Regions from separate parts of the Homo sapiens genome. Here region 1 is linked to region 2. Evidence: fine-mapped expression QTL. Tissue or cell type: esophagus mucosa. Region 2 holds a variant in brackets; the other region holds the start of a gene. All regions are shown on one strand. Distances are between the middles of the regions.

Evidence for each region. PIP is the estimated chance that this variant, and not a neighbour inherited with it, causes the effect.
Region 1: it holds the start of ARMH4, and the variant in region 2 is fine-mapped to the expression of ARMH4 in esophagus mucosa (GTEx, PIP above 0.99).

What each region holds. Positions count from the first base shown.
Region 1 is chr14:58,148,416-58,156,711 of GRCh38, reverse strand. It overlaps ARMH4 (armadillo like helical domain containing 4), which reads left to right and starts at 4,499. Exons shown (of 8, transcript NM_001001872.4): 1 at 4,499-4,637. RefSeq lists silencers at 4,305-4,374, 4,267-4,561, 4,455-4,674, 4,775-4,964.
Region 2 is chr14:57,984,808-57,993,103 of GRCh38, reverse strand. No RefSeq gene overlaps it. Among named protein-coding and RNA genes, the nearest start is that of SLC35F4, 120 kb to the right of the region's middle. The variant C/T (reference allele first, on the strand shown) is at 4,788.

The DNA of each region.
Region 1 (8,296 bases), 160 kb before region 2:
GTTGAGGGAAGAGAAGAGTAAATCTTATGACCACTGCCATGTATCAACAGCAGATGTTGAGATAAATTGTATAAACCAGAGTTGTTGAAAGCAGTACAAACCATTTTTGGAAGGATACAGGACTAGTATAAATGAGTTCCAATAAGATCACTTTACTTTTACTGCACATCTGAAATAATTTATATTGAGGAAATGGGAGACAGGAATTTTGCTATGAGAGAAGGGTAATTTTGAAGAATGGAAAATTTTGAGTCTAACTCAGGTCTGGAACTAGAATTCTGTACTTGGAACTTAGATTATCATGTGGCTACTGAGTCTCTAAGAAGAGTAGGATGTTAGAAAGGGATACTGAAAAGGAGGCAGGAAGATGTCAAAGAAACTTTGAATGTCTTGGCCGGGCGCGATGGCTCACGCCTGTAATCCCAGCACTTTGGGAGGCCGAGGTGGGTGGATCACGAGGTCAGGAGATCGAGACCATCCTGGCTAACACGGTGAAACCCCGTCTCTACTAAAAATACAAAAAATTAGCCAGGAGTAGGTGGCAGGCGCCTGTGGTCCCAGCTACTTGGGAGGCTGAGGCAGGAGAATGGCGTGAACTCGGGAGGCGGAGCTTGCAGCGAGCTGAGATTGCGCCACTGCACTCCAGCCTGGGCGACACAGCAAGACTCTGTCTCAAAAAAAAAAAAAAAAAAAAAGAAGAAACTTTGAATGTCTCAGATTTGTGTGTAAATGTGAGGAGAACTGGAATTCCTTCCTCTTGCTGTCTCTCTTCTGCCTGGCCATCTGGTTAGAACACCCAGAATTCAGGTTAGTTTTTTTTTAGTACTATTATTTACCTGTATTTGGGTTGAGTAGACTTAATATTGTGGGCTAGCTAGTAGCCCCGCCATACTATATAACATTGTTTTTACAAGAAGATGTGGTCTGAGTTTCAAACAACTGACTTAAAAATAAAATGCTGAAATACAACGTGGTCAGGCTGGGTGTGGCTCATCCACCTGGTGGGTACTGAATCCAGGTAGAAGACCTGGCCACAGTGCAATGTATTGCACTGAATACATACAAAAAGCAGATCTCAGGCCAGGTGTGGTTGCTGACACCTATGATCCCAGCATTTTGGGAGGTCAAGGCAGGCAGATAACTTGAGTGCAGGAGTTCAATACCAGCCTGGACAACATGGCAAAACCTCGTCTCTACAAAAAATTAAAAAAAAAAAAAAGCTTGGTGTGGTGGTATACGCCTGTGCTCCCAGCTACTCAGGAGGCTGAGGTGGGAGGATTGCTTGAGCCTGGGGAGGTCGAGGCTGCAATGAGCAGTGATTGGGCCACTGAATTCCAGCTTGAGTGACAGAGCATGACCCTGTCTAAAAACAAACAAACAAACTTCATAGATTCAATTCAATCCAATCACATTCTGGAAGTACCTTATGTACCCATAATAATGTTTCAGTCAACCACAAACTGCGTATAAAATGATGGTCCCATAAGATCATGATGAAGCTGAAAAGTTTCTATCACTTAGTGACATGGTAGCCATCGGAATATCCTAGCACGATGCAACATAATGCATTACTCTCCTTTGTGTGGTGATGCTGGTGTAAACAAACCTACCATACTGCCGGTCATATAAAATTACAGCACATACAATAATGTACAGTAAATACTTGATAATAATAAATGTCTATGCTACTCTGGCTTATGTGTTTACTGTACTGTACTTTTTATCATTAGATTATACTACTTCTACTTGTATATAAAAATGTTAACTGTAAAACAGCATCAGGCAGGTCCTTCAGGAGGTATTGCAGAAGAAGGCCTTGTTATCACAGGAGATGACTGTTCTATGTGTGTTATAGCCCCTGAAGCAGGACAAGATGTGGAGGTGAAAGATGGTGATAATGATCCTGACTCTTTATGGGCCCAGGCTAATGTGTGTGTTTCTGTTTTGTTTTTTAACCAAAAAGTTTAATTTTTTTTTGAGACAGAGTCTTGCTCTGTTGCCCAGGCTGGAGTGCAGTGGTACGATCTTGGCTCACTGCAACCTCCGCCTCCCAGGTTCAAGCGATCCTGCTGCCTCAGCCCCCCTAATAGCTGGGATTACAGGCACGCACCACCATGTCTGGCTAATTTTTGTATTTTTAGTAGAGACAGGGTTTTGCAATGTTGGCCAGGTTGGTCTCGAACTCCTGACCTCAGGTGATCCACCCGCCTCAGCCTACCAAAGTGCTGATATTACAGACATGACCCACCTGGCCTTTTAAAATTTTGTTTTTTAAATAGAAAAAGGCTTATAGAATAAGGAAATAAAGAAATGAAATATTTTTGAACAGCTGTACAATATGTTTGTGTTTTAAGCTGTGTTATTACAAAAGAGTCAAAAGTTACCCAGCCGTGGTGGCATGTGCCCGTAGTCCCAACTACTGGGGAGGCTGAGGCAGGAGGATTGCTTGAGGTTAGGAGGTCCAGGCTGCAGTGAACTGTGATTGTACCACTGGACTCCAGCCTGGGTGACAGAGTGAGACCCTGTCTCAAAGAAAAAAAGAGTCAAAAGTTAAAAAAAATTTATAAAGTAAAAAATTCAGGTAAGCTATGGTTAATTTATTATTGAAGAAAAAATGTTTATGTCTACAGTACAGCCTAAGTGTACATTGTTTACACTACAGTAGTAGTGTAGCATACAGTTATAGCCTACATAACTACAGTAGTGTAGTTATGTACAATAGTATACAGTTATGTCAGTAGTGTAAGGTTACGTACATTACAGTAGTGTACAGTTATGTCCTAGGTCTTCATATTCTCACTCATCATTCGTTGACTCACCCAGAGCAACTTCCAGTCCTATAAGCTCCATTTATGGTAAGTGCTCTATACAGATGCACCATTTTTTATCTTTTATACTGTATTTTTACTGTATTGTTTCAATGTTTAGATATAGAAATACCATTGTGTTACAATTGCCTACAGTACTGAGTACAGTAACATGCTGTACAGGCTTGTAGCCTAGGAGCAATAGGCTATACCATATAGCCTTGGTACGTAGTAGGCTATGCCATCTAGGTTTGTGTAAGTATACTATTATGCTCGCATAACAACAAAATTGCCTAAGGATACATTTCTTAGAATGTATTCCCCTAATTAATCAATGCATGATTATACATAGATAATAATTTCTAAAGGGAGGGGGAATGGGTAACAGTGCATACCTGCTGGGCACCGTGGCACATGTCTATAATTCAAACACTTCGGTAGACCGAGGCAGGAGGATCGCTTGAGTCCAGGAGTTTGAAACTAGCCAGGGCAAGATAGGAAGACCCCATCTTTACCAATAATAATAATAATAATAATAATAATAATAATAATAATAATAATAAAAAATTAGCCAGTCGTGGTGCCGCATGCCTGTGGTCCCAGCTACTTAGGAGGCTGAGGTGGGTGATGGCTTGAGGTCCCAGGAGGAGGTCGAGGCTGCAGTGAGCCATGATGGCGCCACTGCACTCCAGCCTGGGGGAAAGAGTGAGATCCTGTCTCAAAAACAAACAAACAAACAAACAGAAACCAGTACATACCTGTGCATTGTGTTAGGTGTGGGGGTCAAAGGTGAGCCAGCTTTTGCTCTGACTTCAAGGTGTTTATAATTAACTACAAAAGGGGACTAAGGTATTATGAAGAAGGGAGCTAATAAGCACAATAAGGGACAAATGTGAAGAGTGCTCTGCAAATGTAAAATGCTGCGTTGTGGAGGTTGTTCCAAAACGGGCCTTTAGATTCCGACACCTCTTTCCACACCATTAGAAGTAACAGAAAAAGAAAACAGTCCTTGAGAGGCTCAAGAATGGAGGACACAAATTCCCGGTGGCCACGCGAGCCGGATGACCTTGGAGAAGTTACACAGCCCTTAGCCTTAACCTCCTACCCTGGTAAATGAGAACTACAATATCTACCCTTCTATCGTGCAGATTAAGCAGGTAAAGTAATGGGCAAAGCATCTACTCTTGTGCCTGGCAGGAGTAAGGGCTCAATAAACCTTACTTGTGACTAGCACTAGTTTGCAACTTCTCCGACGGACTGAGAAGGGACATTCTGTGTAGAGTTACTTTAAGGGTCCTACTTAAGGGCACCGCCAAGCCGTCCATAGTTTCCACAAGGAACACTGCAGTCTCAGATTTGCGCTCCTTGCCTGAACCAAAGACAGCAAAATTGAGGTTTTTCTCGTGTAAACGGTGCCCTGGTCTCTTCCGCGTAGATAGGGAGGCGAGCTGCCGCAGAAGCTCCCGCTTAAAGAGGGGAAGCGGAGCACGGGATCTCCGAGGGGTCCCAGGTGCCGGGACTCCAGCAGAAGCCGCCCCCGCGGGAGAGCGGAGGCGGGGAAGTGGGCGCAGGGGGGCGTGGGCGACGGCGTCGGCTGTCAGTGCCAGCAGAGCCAGGGCGGGCACACCTACTCACCGCCCAATCCCCGGCCGTAGCCGCGGCCTTATGAATAAGCAACAAAGCGAAGCGCCCTCCCCCTAGCGTCCCAGACAGCGGAGGGAGTCGCCGCCGCTACCGCCGCCGCCGCCGCAGGGCCCGCCGCTGGGATGCCGAGCGCCCGCGCCGCCGCTGCCTCTGTCCTCCGCGCGCTGCTCAGCTGAAGGCGCACAGGTGAGGACGGGCCCGGCTCCGGCCACTTGGGCGGCCGCGGCTGCAGACGTGGCGCCGGGGCAGGGACGGAACCGGAGCCTCAGTGGCGTGGGGTCGCTCCGCGAGCGTAACAGTCCCGGGAGCGTTGCAGCCCTGGGTGCGCCAGGCGTGCGCCCCGATCCTCCTCCGGAGCGCGGTGCCCAGGTGTGGGGTGCGCGGGGGCAGCTCTGGGCGCGCTGGGCGCGGCGCGCAGGCCTCGGAGGACTCACCGCACTCCTAGCTCCAGCCCAGCCTCCCAGCTCCGCACCAGCGAGCCGGCCTTTGTGCTGGCGGAGCTTGCAGGGCTGGCTGCTTTTGTGTGGGCTTTTCTTTCTCTTTCTCCCTCCGCTCGCAATCCCACAGCAGTGAGAGAGAAGTTCCCGAAAACAACGGTTTACTCCTTTCAAACCGTCGATCGCAGTGTCCCCAATGCCACTCAGAGCCTAACAATCGAGGAGCGAATCGTTGCTGCGGTCACCACCGAAATATGTCCTGCCACTTTGCAGAAAACAAACAGTTGAGTGTTTAGCGCAGAGATGTCGAGCCTCCTTGCTCAGCCCCTGACTCGTCCCCCAGGACGCGGCTGGAGGACGCTCCTTGGAAAGGTCACTTAATTAGAAAGAGGGCCTGCGGGTTAGACCTGGGGGAGGCGAGGCTCTGCTTGAGACTCCGGAATAGTTGGGAGGTGCTGCCGGAGGTGCCCAAATGTCTCATGTGCCTCGTGGTCACTGACAGAATCTGACTTGTGTAGATTCCAAACATGTAGAACCTTGGCTGGCGAGGAGGCAAGCAGGAGTGAACAAAACAGGACCCTTAAGAGTTTGGGTTCTCAAAGATGAGATGATCCCGAGGATCCGCCTAGCACTTGGCATCCAATTTCAGTGCAGAACTGATGTGGAAGAGAGGAGAGATGGCTGCTTTAAAGTGTCTGCCTTCTTTCTTTGGAAGTTTTAGTTTGAAACTTGAGGGGGAGTGGGGAGTGGTTCACAAAACCATCCCTAGGGTTCTGAAGGATCTCTTCTCCAAAGGGCAAAAATTCTTGAGTGGTCAGAATTCACATGCCTTCTCTTTATTTTGGTGTATTTCCTTGATCACAAGTGATGCTGTTGGGCTCCAGGGAGTCTCCTTTTAGCCAAGCATCTACAGTCATTGACTGACTTCGGCACGTATGCCAGTAGAACCCCACAGTAGCATCTATTGAAACACACAACCGGCTAAGGTTTCACAGTATCAGAACATTGCTTCTTTTACACACAGAGGTTTAAAGGTACTCTGACTTGCTCTTATGAATAAAGTGGTTTTTTTTTTGTATTTGTCACAATAATGAACCGAGCACTTGTGCAGCAGACAGATTTGATATTAGTTGAGTTTATTCATAGAAACTCCCAAGGCTCACCAAGTCTAAGGTAGCTACAGCAACGGAGCCAATTAGAGAGATGTGAATTTGTCTTTGTTTTCATGGGAGGCTTCTTACTACATATTCCGGAGTTTCCTGCCAGACCTTTACAATATTATAATTTGGTATTACGGAAATGGTTCGATGCTAAATATAAGTGTAGAATCAAAATGAGGAAAACGGGTTTATCTGCTGTGGAAAATGTCCACTCCCCACCTAAAGGTGTCCTTTGCCCTTTATTCTGTAGATGTTTGTCTGAAAAGTGGTGTATGGAATTGTATTTTTGTTAATTGAACTTAAAAAACTTCTCACATAGGGAAGCTGTCTATGCAGAGGGAAACTGCTTTTAATTTTTGTAAAATGAAAACTCATTCCCTAAGCAAGATGTGAGGTCAATCTTATTTTTCCATATTGTGTTTACTTGGTGATTATAAGAGAAGTATCTGAAGCTAGTTTCAGCTTCCCTTTAAATGTCAGCTACTTAGAGATCTAGCCAAGCAAATGGCTACATTTGTGTACCACAAAAACCAGAAATGATATGTCCAATTGGGTCACTGAAATAAACTGTCTGATGGATGGAGAAGAGTTTGTTGATCAAGATTCATCAGGATAGGATTCTGCAGACAGCAGAACCCTCTCAGGTCACATTGTCTACATGATAAAGCTGAAAGGAGAAGCTCCATGAAAGTACCTTGGGGAAAAAAATGCTACTCCATTTGTGGCTGATGTTACAGATGCTCCAAATTGCTCACATTTCTGTATTTGACAGGAATGCATGTCAGTAGCATGCTAGTATGTCTTCTATTGCATGATAATTTACTTTTGTTTCAAACTGCTTTTATGTCTATTATCACTTTTGTGTGTGTTCTCCACCCTTTGAAAAAATATAACCAGCATTATTATTTCTACTTTGCAACAAGAAAACTTGAGTTTCAGTGATTTGCCTAAGGTAGAACTGGAACTCGAAGAAGCCTGTTTTTAAATCTTCAAGTCCATCTCCTTTTACCAGGGATGAGATGATATGCTAGGGGTGATAAGCACGGATATCTTCATTTGTCTACATCACTAATTTGTAGAGACTGAAGCTCCTGGGCTCAGTATGTAGAACTTAGGTGTGGTCTTCAGGGATGGTAAAGTACTTTTTACTGGTATTTAGTTTCCAGTAATTTAGCTATTTTGACCCCAGCCTACTTACCCTCTTCCCTGCCAGCTCTGGGGCTGCTTTCCTCCTGGGGGACCATGCTTTTCTTTGTGGTTACTTACTCCTTCTCCCTCCTTCCATTGTGATGGAACATGCTGCTGAAAGGATTGTTTGTCATTCAGCTATTTAATTTATGGTGAAGTATAGCTGCAGCCTAGATCCTAAAGCCAATATAACAGACCAGTGATGATTGTCAGTAGCACAGTGAATCAGAAACGTGGTACCTTAATGCCATTTGCCACAGCTGGGTTAATAGAGTGAGAGTCTTTATAAGCTCAGCTTTAAGTAAATACAATAGTATTGGCAATAAAATAGTGTTGGCAGTAACAGCCTTAAGGATTTAAAAAAAGAAAAAGTAAGACAATGATAAATTAATCATTGAGGAATGGTCATGAAAAGGACAAAGTGGAAAGATTGTTAAGACACAAAATGGAAAGATTATTAAGACACAAAGATTATTAAGACACTATCCCCCTCATCAGAGAATCACTAATTGTATTTCAAAAGGTGAGATGGTATTTGGCAAGCATGTTGACTTGACGCTGTGAGACTTGTTACCTGTAACTGTTGGTCTGTTGCGTGTGTGTGTGTGTGTGTGTGTGTGTGTGTGTGTAATAAACTCTGAAACCTTAAAATATAGCAGAAATGAGAACACATAAGTTATTGTTATTGTTAGAGTGACAGTTAAATAAGTAGCCAAAATTGGCTAGGTATTGAATAAAACATACAAGTAGACATGGTTAGACCATGAAATGTCATTAAAAAAATCTTACAGTACAAAATAAGGACTTGAAACGTTCTTTTTCATATTCTTAAATGGTTATTTATATTCACATCATGCCAACAAATATTTATGGAATCTCTCCTCTTTGTGCCTACCCTTATTACTAATTATGTGGCAAACAAAGGAATGGTAAAGACTAGTGTTTGTATGCAAAGAACATAATCTCATTTGAGGTGCTGAGACTTAAATGACAATTCATGCTACAGGAGCTAGGAGAAGGGTGGGGAAAGAATGGGCCAGAATGGGATGTGACCTGGGAG
Region 2 (8,296 bases):
GGAGACCCTGTGTCTACCAAAAATTAAAAATTAGCCAGATGTGGTGATGTGCCTCTGTGGACCCAGATACTTGGGAGGTTAAGATGGGATGATCACTTGAGCCTGGGAGGTCAAGGCTGCAGTGAGCCATGATCATGCCACTGCACTCCAGCCTGGGTGATGGAATGAGACCTTATCTCAAAAACAAAAAAGTGGGGACACTGTTAATTACAATGGGATAACAGGCATAAACTGGAATGATCCTGGGAAAATAGGAACCTAAGGGACATCTTAGAGGGAGTGTATCAGACACCTCTTAGAGGAAGTGTAACAGACACTTCAAATCCTATCTTTTATTCCAGTCACCTAAGTAGCATTTAGTTTGGCACAGGCTTCCACCAGTTTGCCAGGGTGTGGGTTATTGTGGGGTTTCACTTGTCACTCACACATGTACAACCTGGAAATGTTAGGGGGGCTAACCTGGTGGGCCTTAACGAATGAGGATGGAAACTGATGGATAAATCCTCCCACCATTTGTTGCTCATGTGGCCGGTTCTCAGATACGTTTCATGAGGCTTCTCAGAATAGTCCTTAGGATTGAGCACTGGTTGTCCATTGCAATGCTACCTTGAAAATTCATCCTTGTATTGGCCTTCTCTCTTTCCTTGTTTCACTGCTACTTGCATGCAAGACTTTGTCTGAGGTCCTGCTTTCAGGGGAACTCAGGCTACAATAATTGGGATTTTGGAGTGAGATCACTCACTGTTCAGAGGTAATAAGGACTCCATTTTTGGAGGTGGGTGGAGTGGTGGTATCTGGCCAGCGCCATCTCAGTTACTAAGACTCTTACTGAGGTGGATTGGGATGAGGTGCAGGCAGAGGCAGAGCATTGGGTGGTGTGATAGCCGTGGTCCTTAAATAGTACAGGAGCAATGGTAATAACAAGGATTGAGCTGGCTGGTGTGTTTAGACTGCTTTGGAGGCTTTGAAAAAAGCAAATGAAGAAAATGACAGGCTCAGGTTTGTTAATTAGCAACATAAGGCATGTCATGAAAGCCAGAGGATCTGTATGGAAGTGTATCAGGAGACTCACATTGGTGGATTGTGCTGTCATTCTCACACTCAAGGTCACCCTCCAAGCAAGCAATCTAGATCAGGCAAGATGTTAATGAGCCTACATCAGGCAAGGGTGAGAAAAGTCTAAAGTGGATAGTGGAGGAGGGAGATGAAGAATATTATGATCTTGGGATCAGCTGGAACAGTAGAACTGGAACTTGTTCCACTAACCCTCTTGAATTAAGTCTTTGCAGAGACTATGGCTGGCCACCACCATGAAAGGGATTCTCTGATAGACTGAATTTAAAGAAGGGCACAAAAAACAAGCACAAGAAATGGATTGTACCTCCCTGTACACCACTCCAGATCCTCTTGCTCATGCCACTATTGTGTTTACCAGGTCTGTGCAGGTGTCAATCAGCTTTTGCATGGGTGCAGCCTGATAGAGACTAGCCTTGTGCTGTGGCTTTCTCACTTCTCTGACGCTGGACTGTCCTGACACCATGCCTTGGGAAGCACGTCAATACTAAGGCATGCACAGTTCAGAAGTACGAGGGAGTTGATATCTGTGAGGCCACCCTTGTCCATCAAGGGGGATGAGGATTGATGAATAACTGCTCTCTTTTCCTCTTTCAGGCAGACAGTTTTGAGTTGCGATTTATCAAGTTTCTCAGAAATCCTGTTGGAGCCAGTCACTTGTAACAGTGGCCACCTTGATAATGCATCCTCACTAATCCTTTCCCTCCTTCACTGTTCCCAGCTCCATCCTATACTCCTGGTCCCTGAGATCACATTTCCAAACAAACTACTGTGTTTAAGCTTTTGTCTCAGGTTCTGTTTTTGGGAGAATACAAACTAAGATAGACAGAGAGAGAGAGAGAAGAAGACAGGCTAGGCTAGGGTACAAAGCAAGGGAAGAAACTGTGATCTGGTATTAAAGTGCAGGGATATTTTGGGACATCAGAGCTTAATTTAGTACTATGATATTTCTAATAATGAAGTGACACATTTAGGCCACATGCTTCCTTGTTAGAAACTCTATAACCAGAGAATATAGCAATTTTAGAGCTGGAAGGATCCTTGGATCTCATTTTTAGCCTATCTTTTATTTTAAAGAAAAGGAAGTTTGGGCTGTGAATATATTCCAGTACATCTGATAAAAGGGATTACACTATGTCAAATCATCCATTACTAACAAAGATAACGATGAATATTCCCCCAAGTGTAAAATTATATATCTAAGAGTTTAGAAGACAGAAAAATAGGCAAAACAGGGTTAGGATAAGGTTGAGTGAAGGTTGACTTGTGCTCAAAAAGTATAAGGGCTGGGAGTATTTCAGAGAGACCAAAAAACCTTCCCAGGAGATAGATTTCTCTTGGAACTTGTTAAATTTTGGCCATGAAAGAAGGGAACTAATGCATTCTGCATGCCAAGCACTTGACATACTTAGCCATGTGAGGTAGGCATTATTACCTCAATTTCTATGTCAGGAAGTTGAGGCTCAGAGGTTAAATAACTTTCTAAGATGACTTATAATCCAAGTGCTTTTGCTTGTATTCTTTCCCTTCCACCTCACCATATTTCTTCTGCTAAAGAGGAGACAGAGTTTCCTCCATCCCCAGCAGTTCCAGAGTTTATAGGCGGCCTTGCCAGGGCTGTAAAAATAGTCCATTAGAAGTAGGAAGAGATCGTGGATCATTCCTTCTGGTCCCTCCATCCCAAAACTCCTATAAAAAGAAGAACTCGATTTTACCTTGAAGGCTAATTTAATATACTTTAGTTTCTACCTTTACCATTCCACTTCTCAGCTAAAAATTTTTACCAGAATGCTGGTTATAACTTGAAAACATTTTATTTAAAAAAAAAAAAAAGTTCCTACCAAAAGTAGAGTAAAAAAGAATTTTTTTTTTGCAGGCAAGATGATTGTATGAATCAGAGTTAATGAAAATATTATTTACCAATCAATGTCAAATTTAAAAAATCACATTCTTAGTGCTTTTGATAGGAATTTATTCATTTGTTCAATACGCTTTTTTTTTTTTTTGTCTAGAGCCACACTGTTCAGTGCAGTAGGAAGTAGCTACATATGGCTATTTAAATTTAAATTAATTTAAATTAAAATTTAAAATGTAGTTTCTTAGTCATACTAGATTCATTTCAAGTGCCCAAATAGCCACCACACATGGCTAGTAGCTCCCATATTGGACAAAGTGGATATAGAACATTTCCATCTTCACAGAAAGTGCTAATGAACAGTTCTGGCTATGCTGGACACATTGTTAAGTTCTGGGGATACAGCAAATGAATAGATATGGTCTCTACTTCATGAACTTACATTTTAGGGGAAAGAGAGAGACAAAAATATGCAAATAAATAAAATAATAATAGATGGTAATTTAGTCTTACAATGCAAATCTATTGTCTGCTGGGTAGACAATATTAGGAGCCAACTACTTCATACCCTGAGGTCACCTGAGGGATGTGAAGAAGCCATTGAGAAGAGCATTCAAGGCAGAAGGAACTGCAGGTGCAAAAGTCTTCAGAACTTACCATGTTTCAGTGAGGGGTAGAGAGAATGAGGGCTTTGGACATCCTGGGAAGAAAACTGGCCATCAAAGAAAGGAAACCATACAAGGAGGTTGTGGAGAACAGCTTCATAACGATATTTGGGAACAATAGTTCTTGAGTGTGCATTAAAATCACCTGGAGGCCTTCCTATAACAGATTGCTGAGCCCCACCCCGGAGTTTCTCATTCAGTGGGTCTGGGTAGGGCTTGAGAATCTGCATTTCTGACATGCTCGCAGGTGATGCTGATGCTCCTCATCTCAGGGTCACACTTTGAGAACCAGTGACTACCAGATTTAGTAGATGAAGAAAGGAAAGCTTGGAAAGATGACCTCACTAGCTCTAGTCCCACAGCTAGTTAGTGGAAGAGACAGAAAAGGCAGAGGTGGCAAGAGAGAAGAAGGCATAGCAGTAGAAAGCATGAGATCGTTTTCAAACTCAAATCTTCTTCACTGGGAGGAGACACGTGGAATCTGTGCACTGAGGAAATTTTGATGTGGTTCTAATGGCAGGCAAGTAGGAGCTCACCTTTGCGTGATTTATTAGGATCTGAGTTTGTTTATATATGGCTCATTTCAAAGGATTTATTAATCGAGAGCACGCTGGATATAGAAGCAAGTATATCATTGACTCAGCTGACTTGAGCCCTCTCCAAATTTTAAAAACCTTATCATATAGAATATGCCTGCTGTGTGGCTGCTTCGTGCCTAAGGCAGCATGCCTTGGAAGCGCTTGTGGATCAGCTTCAGATACTATAAAACATTCCATCACTTTTAAACATGACTGTCCCCTCCTCTCCCCACCCCCTTTCCTGATGGAAAGGCTACTACCTGTTTCACCGCAGGCTTGGGAGGGACACGTCATGATGACAGGTAACATTTGAACAGCTGCCTGCAGTTTAGTACCATGGTTCCAAAGATGGCTGCACACTAGACACACTAGAAGAGTGTTTAGAACTAACCCGCCCAGGGCCCACCCCTAGAGGTTCTGCTTTCATTGTTCTGGATTAAGTGCCATATAACAATATCTAGATCCCACTGTAGGGGTGATTGTGGTCAGCTAGCCTCTGCAAGACAAGTGAGAGAATGTGCCTGGCCTGAATTAGAGAAAGTCTCCCTGCTAAGCTCCTGGGCCTCTGGACAGGTCCTTCTCACAGTGGCCCTGGCTATTCTGGGAGAATGGGGG[C/T]GACCTTGACAGTCTCGGGAGAAAGTGAGGCCCAGGACTCGGCCCTGACAGTGGATCCTATTTGCCGAAATGGTAGCATCTGAGAAAGGACAGAGGATTTGAAATGAGGCGCTAGATTCCTCTTTCTGTGTCATTGGTGGCCTTATTTGGTGCTTTAACCAATGTAGATAGTGATGTAAAATGTGGGTTCTGGAGTCTGACTGCCAAGATTCCTAATCCCAGCTTTACCATATTTAGCTGTGCTAACTGGAGCAAGAAATTCAGTTTCTGCCTCAGCCAAGGGTCCTGGCAGGAAAGAGATGATATACTCAAATAATGTTACTGAAGAGAGTTTAACAAAGGGTGTGGGAAGGTTAAAGTAACCAGCGAGGGATTGTGAAGTCCCCAGGGACTAATAGCAGGGGAAGCCATTGTCACCTTTCTGCCTTCAGGGACAAAAGGGGCAGGAACAGGGTTACCTGAACCTAGGGAGAGCTGTCGTGTAGGAGGGGCCCACAGAACTGGAGCTTTGGCTGAAGAGGAGGAATACAGCCAGTGGTAAAACCGGCCCAACAGGGAGGGAGGAGGAGGGATAAATGGCCACACCTCTCTTCTGACTTTGCAGCTCAAGCCACTGCCTCCCATTAGCCCAACTCAACTGGAACCACAGGGCAAAAAGGCCCTACTGATGCAGTCACAGAGGCCAGTCTCCTGGGAACACAAAGCAGTACTAAGAAATGAGCAGAACACATATCACAGTCAAATTCAGTATTACCACCCCAAATCCAATAAGCCTCTGTGTTCTTGTCTGTAAAATGGGAATGCTAACAGTAATGGCATTTCCCTCGTAGGGCTGTTGTAAACATTAAATGAGATGGTGCATGTAAAGTCCTGAGCACAGTGTCTGGTCCATGGCACATGCTCCATTATGGCCACTGTTATTATTACATTACAGGTGACTACTTGGCCTGCAGGAAGGGACACCTCTTTTATGGACTGTAATCCTGACTCCAAGAGGCCTACAGGCAGAGCATTGCTCCACTCTTAGGCTGAGAGGCTCCTCATTGCAGAAGAATCCAGTTAGGCTTGGGTCTGGTCACACATATGGACTTGCAGTCACAACCAGTGAGTAAGACCCTGAGTCAGAGGAGGTGACAGCAGCACTCTCTCTTCTTCCTCACTCTTGTTTTTGGCCTTGTTGATGTTCGATATGTCAAGATAGATGAAGGCTTAGCCTGTCTGATGGACATGACCAGCTTTATTTATAGACTGAAATTCTTTAGGGTGAGCATCCCATGGTCCTGGTGGGTGATGGGGAATCACTTTCCTTCCCTGAGGAATGAGAAATGAGCGTGTGCATGGAGATTGGGACCACAGATTCAGGCAACAATGGCTTCTGCCACGAACAGTTTTTCTCACCTTCCTTTTCTATTGATAATCTCCTGCCAGCCTCACCATCCCAAGACTGGGCCCATAACCTGACCTGGCCACTCATAATTCTCTTGGAGCTGAGATTGACTCAAGGGCCCAGAGATGACAGTTTCCTCTTTAATGAAAGCCTATGTAGAAAATAATCTCTTGATCCCTTCCAGATTTAGAGTATTGGGAAGTTAAAATAAACAACAGAAAAAGAAAACTTTAGTTTAAATCTCCCAAATATCAACCACAGGACTTCTTTTTTGCTTGAGACAATATATGCATAGTGATTAAGAGAGCAGGCTTTGGAGTGCAAAGGCCTGGTTTCCCATCCTGGTTTGTCACTTAATGTGACCCTGGGCAATTTTTTCTTTTCTTTCTTTTCTTTTTTAGACAGGATCTCACTTTGATGCGCCGGCTGGAGAGCAGTGGTGTGATCACGGGTCACTGCAGCCTGGAACTCCTGGGCTCAAGCAATTCTCCTACCTTGGCCTCTGGAGTAGCTGGGCCTACAGGTGCATACTACCACACCTGGCTAATTATTTTCTATTTTTTTGTAGAGATGGGGTCTGACTGTGTTGCCCAAGCTGGTCTCAAACTCCTGGGCTCAAGCAATCCTCCCACCAGGGCCTCCCAAAGTGTTGAAACTACAGGCGTGAGCCACTGTGCCTGGCTAGATTTCTTTATCAAAACTCCTCTTCGTTTATCTGTGAAGTGGGGGTAATTGTTGCACCTTCTCCCCCAGAGCTCAGCAATCGGAAGTTATGTAGGAGTTGGAGTAGATGTCATGGGGATGGCATGAAGGTCATAGGGAGAGATTAAACAAAATCATGTATGATGTTGCTCAGCACAGCTCCTGGGACATAGGAAGCATTTCAACCCATTAGCTACTATTTATTATCTGCTTTTTTAAAGAACCTAAAATACAGAGATGTCTGTGGAAGTGCACAAAGCCTCTCCCAGCCCACAAAGTTCTGTGTGGAAAAGGTCACAGAGGTTTCAGCTGCTCTTCTCACCCCAAGATAGAGTCAAGGCCAGCGTTCGGATAGCAACTACAGTTTGCTTTAAAATGTAGCATGATCCAAGAAATAGAATTTGTCACGTTTAGTAGGATTCAGCCCGACAAGGTTTTGACTGATTAACCGTGTTTCCCAAGGTAAGAGAAAGTAATCACTCTGCCAGGGTCCCAGAAGGAACGAGGTCAAGGAGAGCTCAGTCCTTCTCTCTGTGTGATGGCCTTGAGAGAGATGGCTCTGAGAGAGCAGGCAGGAGCAAGCTGGGGGTCCTCATCTGGTCATACAGTGGAGATACTGTGATCCTGTTACAATCACACTGTCAATATGTCAGCCCAAGACCCAATCCTCTGGCTCTTGCTGAATGGGGAAGATGAAGCTTCCTTGGCCCAGAAGGAGCCTGGAGAGTCTGCTGCAAGGCGTATTCCCACTGCATAGATTGGATTCTTTTCTTTTGAAATGGCTAGTGTTCAAGAGTTCTTCATCCAGTTAAATTATTCTTTTCTTTTTGAGACGGAGTCTTGCTCTGTTGCCCAAGCTGGAGTACAGTGGCACAATCTCGGCTCACTGCAACCTCCGCCTCCTGGGGTTCAAGCGATTCTCCTGCCTCAGCCGCCGGAGTAGCTGGGACTACAGGTGCGCCACCACGCCCAGCTAATTTTTGTATTTTTAGTAGAGACGGGGTTTCAGCATGTTGGCCAGGATGGTCTTGAACTCCTGACCTAGTGATCCGCCCGCCTCGGCCTCCCAAAGTGCTGGGATTACAGCTGTGAGCCACCGTGCCCGGCCAAATTATTCTTAATGTTATAGCTGCTATTAGGTTGGTGCAAAAGTAATTGCGGTTTTTGCCATTAAAGGTAATGGAAAAAATTATACAATAGGAAATAACTATATAATAGGAAAAGAAGACACAGAGGAAATCATCTTTACCACCCTGCTACTCCTATAATGTGAATATTACATTTCTTCTTGTTCCCTTCGGGTCTCTGCTCAGATGACGACCTGGTTTTTATATAGATGAAACCATTACAGAAATTCCATATTGGATTTTTACTTTATTAAGCTTTGGAAACACTTGTCTCCTTTTTATTTTCCACGGTA